2 linked regions of the Homo sapiens genome follow. The protein of the gene in region 2 interacts with the protein of the main gene of each other region in a pairwise test. Each region holds a gene or a part of one and is shown on either strand. Other genes may lie near its edges.

The links. The genes of interacting proteins can lie anywhere in the genome.
Region 1: the proteins of CYP4F2 (region 2) and ERGIC3 interact in binary tests that used the Homo sapiens proteins (3 or more experiments, as listed by UniProt).

What each region holds. Positions count from the first base shown.
Region 1 is NC_000020.11:35,548,578-35,552,077, reverse strand, and holds part of ERGIC3 (endoplasmic reticulum-Golgi intermediate compartment protein 3), read right to left. Parts: coding exon 3,404-3,500; intron 3,271-3,403; coding exon 3,213-3,270; intron 1-3,212. UniProt on the Homo sapiens protein: Possible role in transport between endoplasmic reticulum and Golgi. Positively regulates trafficking of the secretory proteins SERPINA1/alpha1-antitrypsin and HP/haptoglobin.
Region 2 is NC_000019.10:15,877,523-15,881,074, forward strand, and holds the end of CYP4F2 (cytochrome P450 4F2 precursor), read right to left. Parts: intron 2,376-3,552; coding exon 2,242-2,375; intron 2,147-2,241; coding exon 2,082-2,146; intron 1,907-2,081; coding exon 1,824-1,906; intron 1,415-1,823; coding exon 1,249-1,414; 3' UTR 501-1,248; downstream 1-500. UniProt on the Homo sapiens protein: A cytochrome P450 monooxygenase involved in the metabolism of various endogenous substrates, including fatty acids, eicosanoids and vitamins.

The DNA of each region.
Region 1 (3,500 bases), on a different chromosome or scaffold from region 2:
CTCCTTCTCCAGGACTTCACTCCGGTCACTGTCTCGTCTCTGGAGCATCACTTATGCTCTTTAGTCGATAATTTCCAACAGCATATTAACATTCTGCTACATCACCCTCCTTAGAAAAGCCTCCCTCGACTCCACATTTCCCTCTAGCTTCAGCTCATGCTCTCTCCTCCCCTAGGCAATTTCCACTATAGAGCTGTCAATACTGGCTCCAACTCCTCCCCCATTCCCTCCCGAACCCACTCTAGGGTGGTCCTGTCACACCCTTAAATGACTCAGTCAAGGCTATAAGTGACTGTTGCATGTACATGCCATGGTCAATTCCCGCTTGACATCCAGAAGCATCTGATGTGGTATTTGAAACACCCGTCCGTGGCTGGCAGGATGCCACATTCCCAGCTTACACTCCTCCTCCAGTCTCCCCTACCAATTCCCCCTGACACCCTTGGCCTCTAATGTGGGAGGCCTGGCACCCAGCCCTTTGAGCTTCCCTTCTTCTCCATCTGCCCTCACCTCCAGGGTGATTTCATCCAGTCCCACAGCTCTATACACATGCTGATGATGCCAACATCTGCATCTCCAGGCAAGTCCTCTCCCTGAACTCCAGGCTTGAATGGAAAACTTACTTGACACCTTGGGTGTCTAGAAGGACACCCAGATGCTATTGGTCTGAACACGTCAAAAGCCGAATACCAGCTGTACGATCCCATTTCCGAACATCTAAACCTGCCCTGAGTCTCCCTCATCTTGCTAAATGGCAACTCTATCCTTTTTTTTTTTTTTAATGGAGATGGAATCTCACTCTGTCGCTCAGGCTGGAGTGAAATGGCACAATCTCGGCTCCCTGCAACCTCCGCCTCCTGGGTTCAAGCAATTCTCCTACCTCAGCCTCCCGAGTAGCTGGGACTACAGGCGCACGCCGCTACGCCCGGCTGATTTTTTGCATTTTTTAGTAGAGACAAGGTTTCATCATGTTGCCCAGGCTGGTCTCAAACTCCTCAGCTCAGGCAATCCACCTGCCTTGGCCTCCCAAAGTGCTAGGATTACAGGCAACTCCATCCTTCTTACTACTCAGGTACAAAACTTTGGAGGCATCCTTGACTCCTTTTTCCTTTATCCCTCATGCCCATCAGGAACTCTTCTCAGCTCTACCTTCAAAATACATCCAGAAGCCAGTCACTTCCCACCACTTCCACTGCCACTCTGGGCCGTGCCCCACCATCTTTTGCCTGGATTGATCACTGCAACTGCCTCCTAATGGGCCTCTCTGATTCTGTCCTTTCCCCTGCCCAGTCTTGTCCACAGAGCAGCTGGAGAGCTTTTAAGTCAGATCATGCCTCACCTTCTTCAGGGCCCTACAATGGCTTCTCATCTCATGCAGAGTAACGGCCCGAGTCCCTACAATGCCCCTGCAAGCCCTGCATGATATGGCCCTGTGACCTCTCTTTATTTATTATTATTTTTTGAAATGGAGTCTCACTCTGTTACCCAGGCTGGAGTACAATGGCGCAATTTCAGCTCACTGCAACCTCCACCTCCCAGGTTCAAGAGATTCTCGTGCCTCAGCCTCCCGAGTAGCTGGGATTACAGGCGTGTGCCACCACACCCAGCTAATTTTTGTATTTTTGGTAGAGACAGGGTTTCACCATGTTGGCCAGGCTGGTCTTGAACTCCTGACCTCAGGTGATCCACCCGCCTCGGCCTCCCAAAGTGCTGGGATTACAGGTATGAGCTACTGCACCCGGCCTCTCTCACTTCATTTCTAAGCATGCTCCTCTGCTCCAGCCACCCTAACCTTCTTACTGTATCTTGAACTTGCCAAGCACATTCTAGCCTTAGGAATTTGCATTTGCTGTTCTCTCTGCTTGTAACACTTCCTCCCCAGACATCCACATGGCTGGCTCCCTCACTGTCTTCAGGTCTTTGCTAAAATATTACCTCATCAAAGAGTTTTTCCCTGACCTCCATATTTAAAATAGGACCCTCACTGCCCTACCCTAGCCCCTCCCCATTACCATCTTTATCCTGCCTTGTTTTGGTCCATATGACTTAACAGCATCTGATATACCATATACAGATGCTCCCTGACCTACACTGGGGTTACGTCCCAATAAACCCATTGCAAGTTGAAAATATTGTAAGTCGGCCAGGTGCGGTGGCTCATGCCTGTAATCCTAGCACTTTGGGAGGCCGAGGCGGGCAGATCACTTGAGGTCAGGAGTTCAAGACCAGCCTGGCCAACATAATGAAACCCCATCTCTACTAAAAATACAAAACTTAGCTGGGCGTGGTGGCACGCACCTGTACACCCAGCTACTCAAGAGGCTGAGGTAGGAGAATCACTTGAATCCAGGAGGTGGAGGTTGCAGTGAGTCAAGATCATGCCACTGCACTCCAGCCTGGGCGACAGAGTGAGACTCTGTCTCAAAAAAGAAAAAGAAAATATCGTTAAGTGAAAAATGCATGTAATACCCATCATGAAGTTAAAAATTGCAAGCTGAACCATTGTTAATTGGGGACTATTTATATTTTATATACTTATTGTCTATTTCTTTACTAGAATGTTCTGAGGGCACAGATTGTTCACTACTGTACCCTTAGCAACTAGACTAGTAGGTGATTACTAAATATTTTGTGAATGCATGAATGAACAAATGAATGAGAATAAATCTCATTTGTTCACCCCAACAGCCCTGTGAGTGGGTACTATTATCATCATCCCCATTTTACAGAAGAAGCAACTAAATAGGGCCCAAATATGACATAGCCCAGGTGTGGCAGAACCTGTGCTCCAACCTAGCTCTGCTTCTCCCAAAGCCTCATGCACAGGTCATCATCGGACACGGGGGGCTACCATTTCAACAAGTACCTACCACAAGCCAGGCTCCGTGCTATCATCTTTAACCTGCACACACACCCTGTGAGATAAGTGCCCTCACAACATTTTATAAAGTAGAAAACAGGAGTCAAAAAGATTAAGAAACCTTCTCAAAGTCACACAGCCAGTAAGGTCTGAAACTGGTATCTGAATGCAGGCAGTCTGGCTCCTCGGCCTGTGCTCTTAGCCACTGTGCCAAACTGCTGCCCTGAGATGAAGGCCTGCTCTGGCCAAATGGTTGCCCAAGACAAATGAGCAGCAGGCAGAAGAGGACCACTCAAGCTCACCAAGAAGGTGGCCAGCATCTAAATCTCCCCAGCTAGTGCAGATCACTCACCGTGCACATGGGACTGCTGGAAGCTCTTCCCAGGGGCAAAGTGGAAGTTTCCGGCCACCTGTAAGGAACATTCTCTCTCATTCACTGGCTGTGTCCTCCTTTTGCCTACTCAGGGCCTGACTGGGCCCTCGGTTCCCAGTGGAGCTTGCCCAGCCCAGCTGGCCCTATCTTGTCTTGATCCCTCCTGATACCTTATTGACTTCCAAGAAGCCATACACCTGGCAGCCTTCATTCTTCTGCTCCTGCATCTTCTGGCTGAAGCCCTCTCGCCGGCACTGCTCAATAGTA
Region 2 (3,552 bases):
CGCTTTGAAAATCATGTCCTTGATACGATAAGGCATGACCTCTGATGCCAACTGCTCAGATTCACCCCTGACTCCACCCTTCACTGAGTGACCTTGAACAAGTGAGTTCATCTACAATCTGTAAGATCGATGTGAGGATGAAATCAGCATTTACCTGGGGGAGCTGAAAAGTCACCTTCTCCCTTCTCAGTGATCTACTTCTGTTAATACGACCAAAATATTCAGTGTCTGTGGAATTTCCAGATCATAACTGTTCTATGAAAGGTGTCTAACCACACCTGTATCTTACATGAATATTTGTGCATCTATTGCTGTGAAAATGAGATCTCTACCCCAAAAGTTACTTGATGAAGAATAACTCAATTTGTTACTAATAGTCAATGTATATGAAGCTAATTCTTACAAAGTGAGACAAAACACTTTTATTTTCTAATATGATGTCTTTTTTTAAATTAAGACTGATTTGAACACTTAACACACACATTTTGAGGACCACAAAATAATGTTTCCTAAGATGATTTAATGTCATGGAAAGATGCTCACAGCATATTATTATATGAACAACCTGGACAGAAAAAAAATGTATGTGAGATAAAATAGCAAATTTTTTTGATTGAGGTAGAATTCACATACCACGAAATTCACCATTTCAAAGTGTCCAATTCAATAGCATTTAGTGCACTCACAGTGTCGTGCTACCTTCGTCACTATCTAGGTCCGGAACATTTTCACCATCCCGGGAGGAAACCCCATACTGATTAGCAGTCGCTCCTCAGTCCCACCTCCCCACAGCTGCTGAAAGCCACCAATCCGCTATGCATCTCTTCAGATTGGCCTGTTCTGGAAATTTCGTATAAAAGGACAGTACACTATGTGACCTTTTGCATCTGACGTCTTTCATTCAGTATCATGCATTCAAGGTTCATCCACAGTGTAGTAGGGATCACTGCTTCATTCCTTTTTATGGCTGTGTAATACTCCATTGTATGGATGGACCACATTTTGTTTATCCTTTCATCTGGTAATATATAGCTTGGGGTTGTTTTCATCGTTTGGCTACTGTGAATAGGGCCGCCATGAACATTCACGCACAAGCGTCTTTCTGTTTGAACACTTGTCTCAATTATTTTGAGTAGATATCTAGGATGGAATACAGGACTGTGGAACAGGGTCTTAGGGTAATTCTAGGCTTCACTTTTGATGAATCAGGGGTCATTTTAGTGGGGTCAGAGTGGGTCTCTGCAGAACTCAGCTCAGGGGCTCCACCCGCAGCCAAAGTCCGCCCTCTGCGCGCAGGACCAGCTCCGGCTTCCTGCGGGGCTCGGTGTGGTCAGGCAGGACGCGGAAGCGCAGCAGCGTGAGCGCCAGGACCACCTTCATCTCCGCCATCGCGAACGTCTGCCCGATGCAGTTCCTAGGGGAGGGAGGTGGGAACTCTGACTGCACCCAGGAGCCCCATCCTGGCCCCATCAAGCCGGTAACCTGGCCTGGGACACCCAACCCCACCTAGAGCAGTTTGAGGAATAGAGAAGGGGGTATCCGTGCCTGGATCCCCATGCGGGCTTGCATATCCTGCAAGCCTAGCCGAGCTCCAACCCCCAGCCTAGACCAAGGTGGGGTAGGAGGGGGCTCTGAGCACACCACAGACCCTTCTAGGACCAACCCAACCGTACTCTATGGACCTTTTCCTATAAACTCCAGAGGAGGTGAGGGAAAGAGAGCTGGAACTTGGACCATCTACAATGTCCCCCTTTTCCCCACTGTCATGCCCAGACCCCTGCACCCATCAACCCGTTCCCACCTCAGACACAGGCCGCCCTTACCTGGGCCCTGCCGAGAAGGGAATAAAAGCCAGAGGTGACCTCTCCTTGATGTTCTCTGGGTCAAAGCGAAAGGGGTCGTAGACCTGGAGGTGAGACCAAGAAGGGTTGTTGGGTGGGGTCTCCCAGTCCGCCAGCCTTGGAGAGACAGACAGTTGTGTGTGTCTTTGAGGGAGGTGATGTTGGATACTCCTGATCAAAACCCTGCCCCCTCCTCTAGGAGCCTTGGAATGGACAAAAACAGAGAGAGGGGCCCCGCACCTCAGGGTCCGGCCACACAGCTGGGTTGTGATGGGTTCCGAAAACACTGATGAGGCAGATAATGCCTGTGGGAGAGAAGGGAGCAGTCAGGAGAAGGCCTCCTTCACTGAGGGGCCCCTCTTCCTACCCAGGAGACTCCTCCCCGTGAGGCTGTGAGCACCTTTGGGGATGACCCGGCCGTCTGGGAGCACAATGTCCTGGGTGACATGGCGGGAGATGACCGGGACTGGGGGATGCAGCCGCAGGCTCTCCTTCATGCACATGGTCAGGAAGGGCAAATGGGCCAGGTCGTCCCTAAGGAAACACCCCAGCCCCAATCCTTATCAAGGGAGCAAAGACACAATTCTCCAGCTTCTCTCTGTTTGCAAGTGAGACCTTTTCTCCCCGCAATAAAATAAACTTTTAACAAGAATTGTTACAAAGTCGCAAGAATAAAAATAGTGTGGCACTGTGGCAAAAATGAGAAAACAGACCCATGGAACATGAGGGAGAGCTCAGAAAAAGACATGAGAATAAGTGAAAACTTCACATTTGATAAAGACAGCCCCTGCTCAAACCAAAATCCTGGGAAACTGATGGATTTTACAGTTGTAAAAGAAAAAAGTGGATCAATTTAACTTCACAGAAGTTGAATATGCTCAAGATGGTAGTTTTTGCAGATAAAGGATAGTAATGAAAAGTACCCTCCAAAAGTTGAAAGGCAATATTTTGCAACCCAAGACAGAAAAAAAAAAATCAATTTTGGCTGGGCGTGGTGGCTCATGCCTGTAATCCCAGCACTTTGGGAGGCTAAGGCAGGTGGATCACAACATGAGGAGATCGAGACCATCCTAGCTAACACAGTGAAACCCCGTCTCTACTAAAAATACAAAAACTTAGCGGGGTATGGTGGAGGGCACCTGTAGTCCCAGCTACTCGGGAGGCTGAGGCAAGAGAATGGCTTGAACCTGGGAGGTGGAGGTTGCAGTGAGCTGAGATCACACCACTGCACTCCAACCTGGGCGATAGAGACTGCATCTCAAAAAAAAAAAATCAATTTTAATACACATTCTTAAAAGTAAATATTTTTAAAGAATCCAAAGAAAAAGAGCAAAAAAATAAAGGAACCACTTCCATAAAAAGAAACAAACATCAACACGTGAAAGAGATGTTCAACCTCACTCTTATTTAAAACAATGTCCATCAAAAGAAGAAATATGAAGATTGGCATAGATTTTAAAATTTAATAATACATTAGTAGTATTGGTAAAGTTATGGGAAAACTTGTGCCATCAAACTCAGCTAATAGGAAAGGATTTGCAATGATAATTAAAATTGTACAGTGCAAATGTTCTTTGATTCAGCAATTGCACTTCAGGGAATTTGTCCTGCAGAGATGCTTATACATGCAAGGAATGGTCACTGTGCACACATGCTGACTGCCTCATGTCCACTTTTAGCAAAAGGTTGGAAACAAGCCACATACACATTG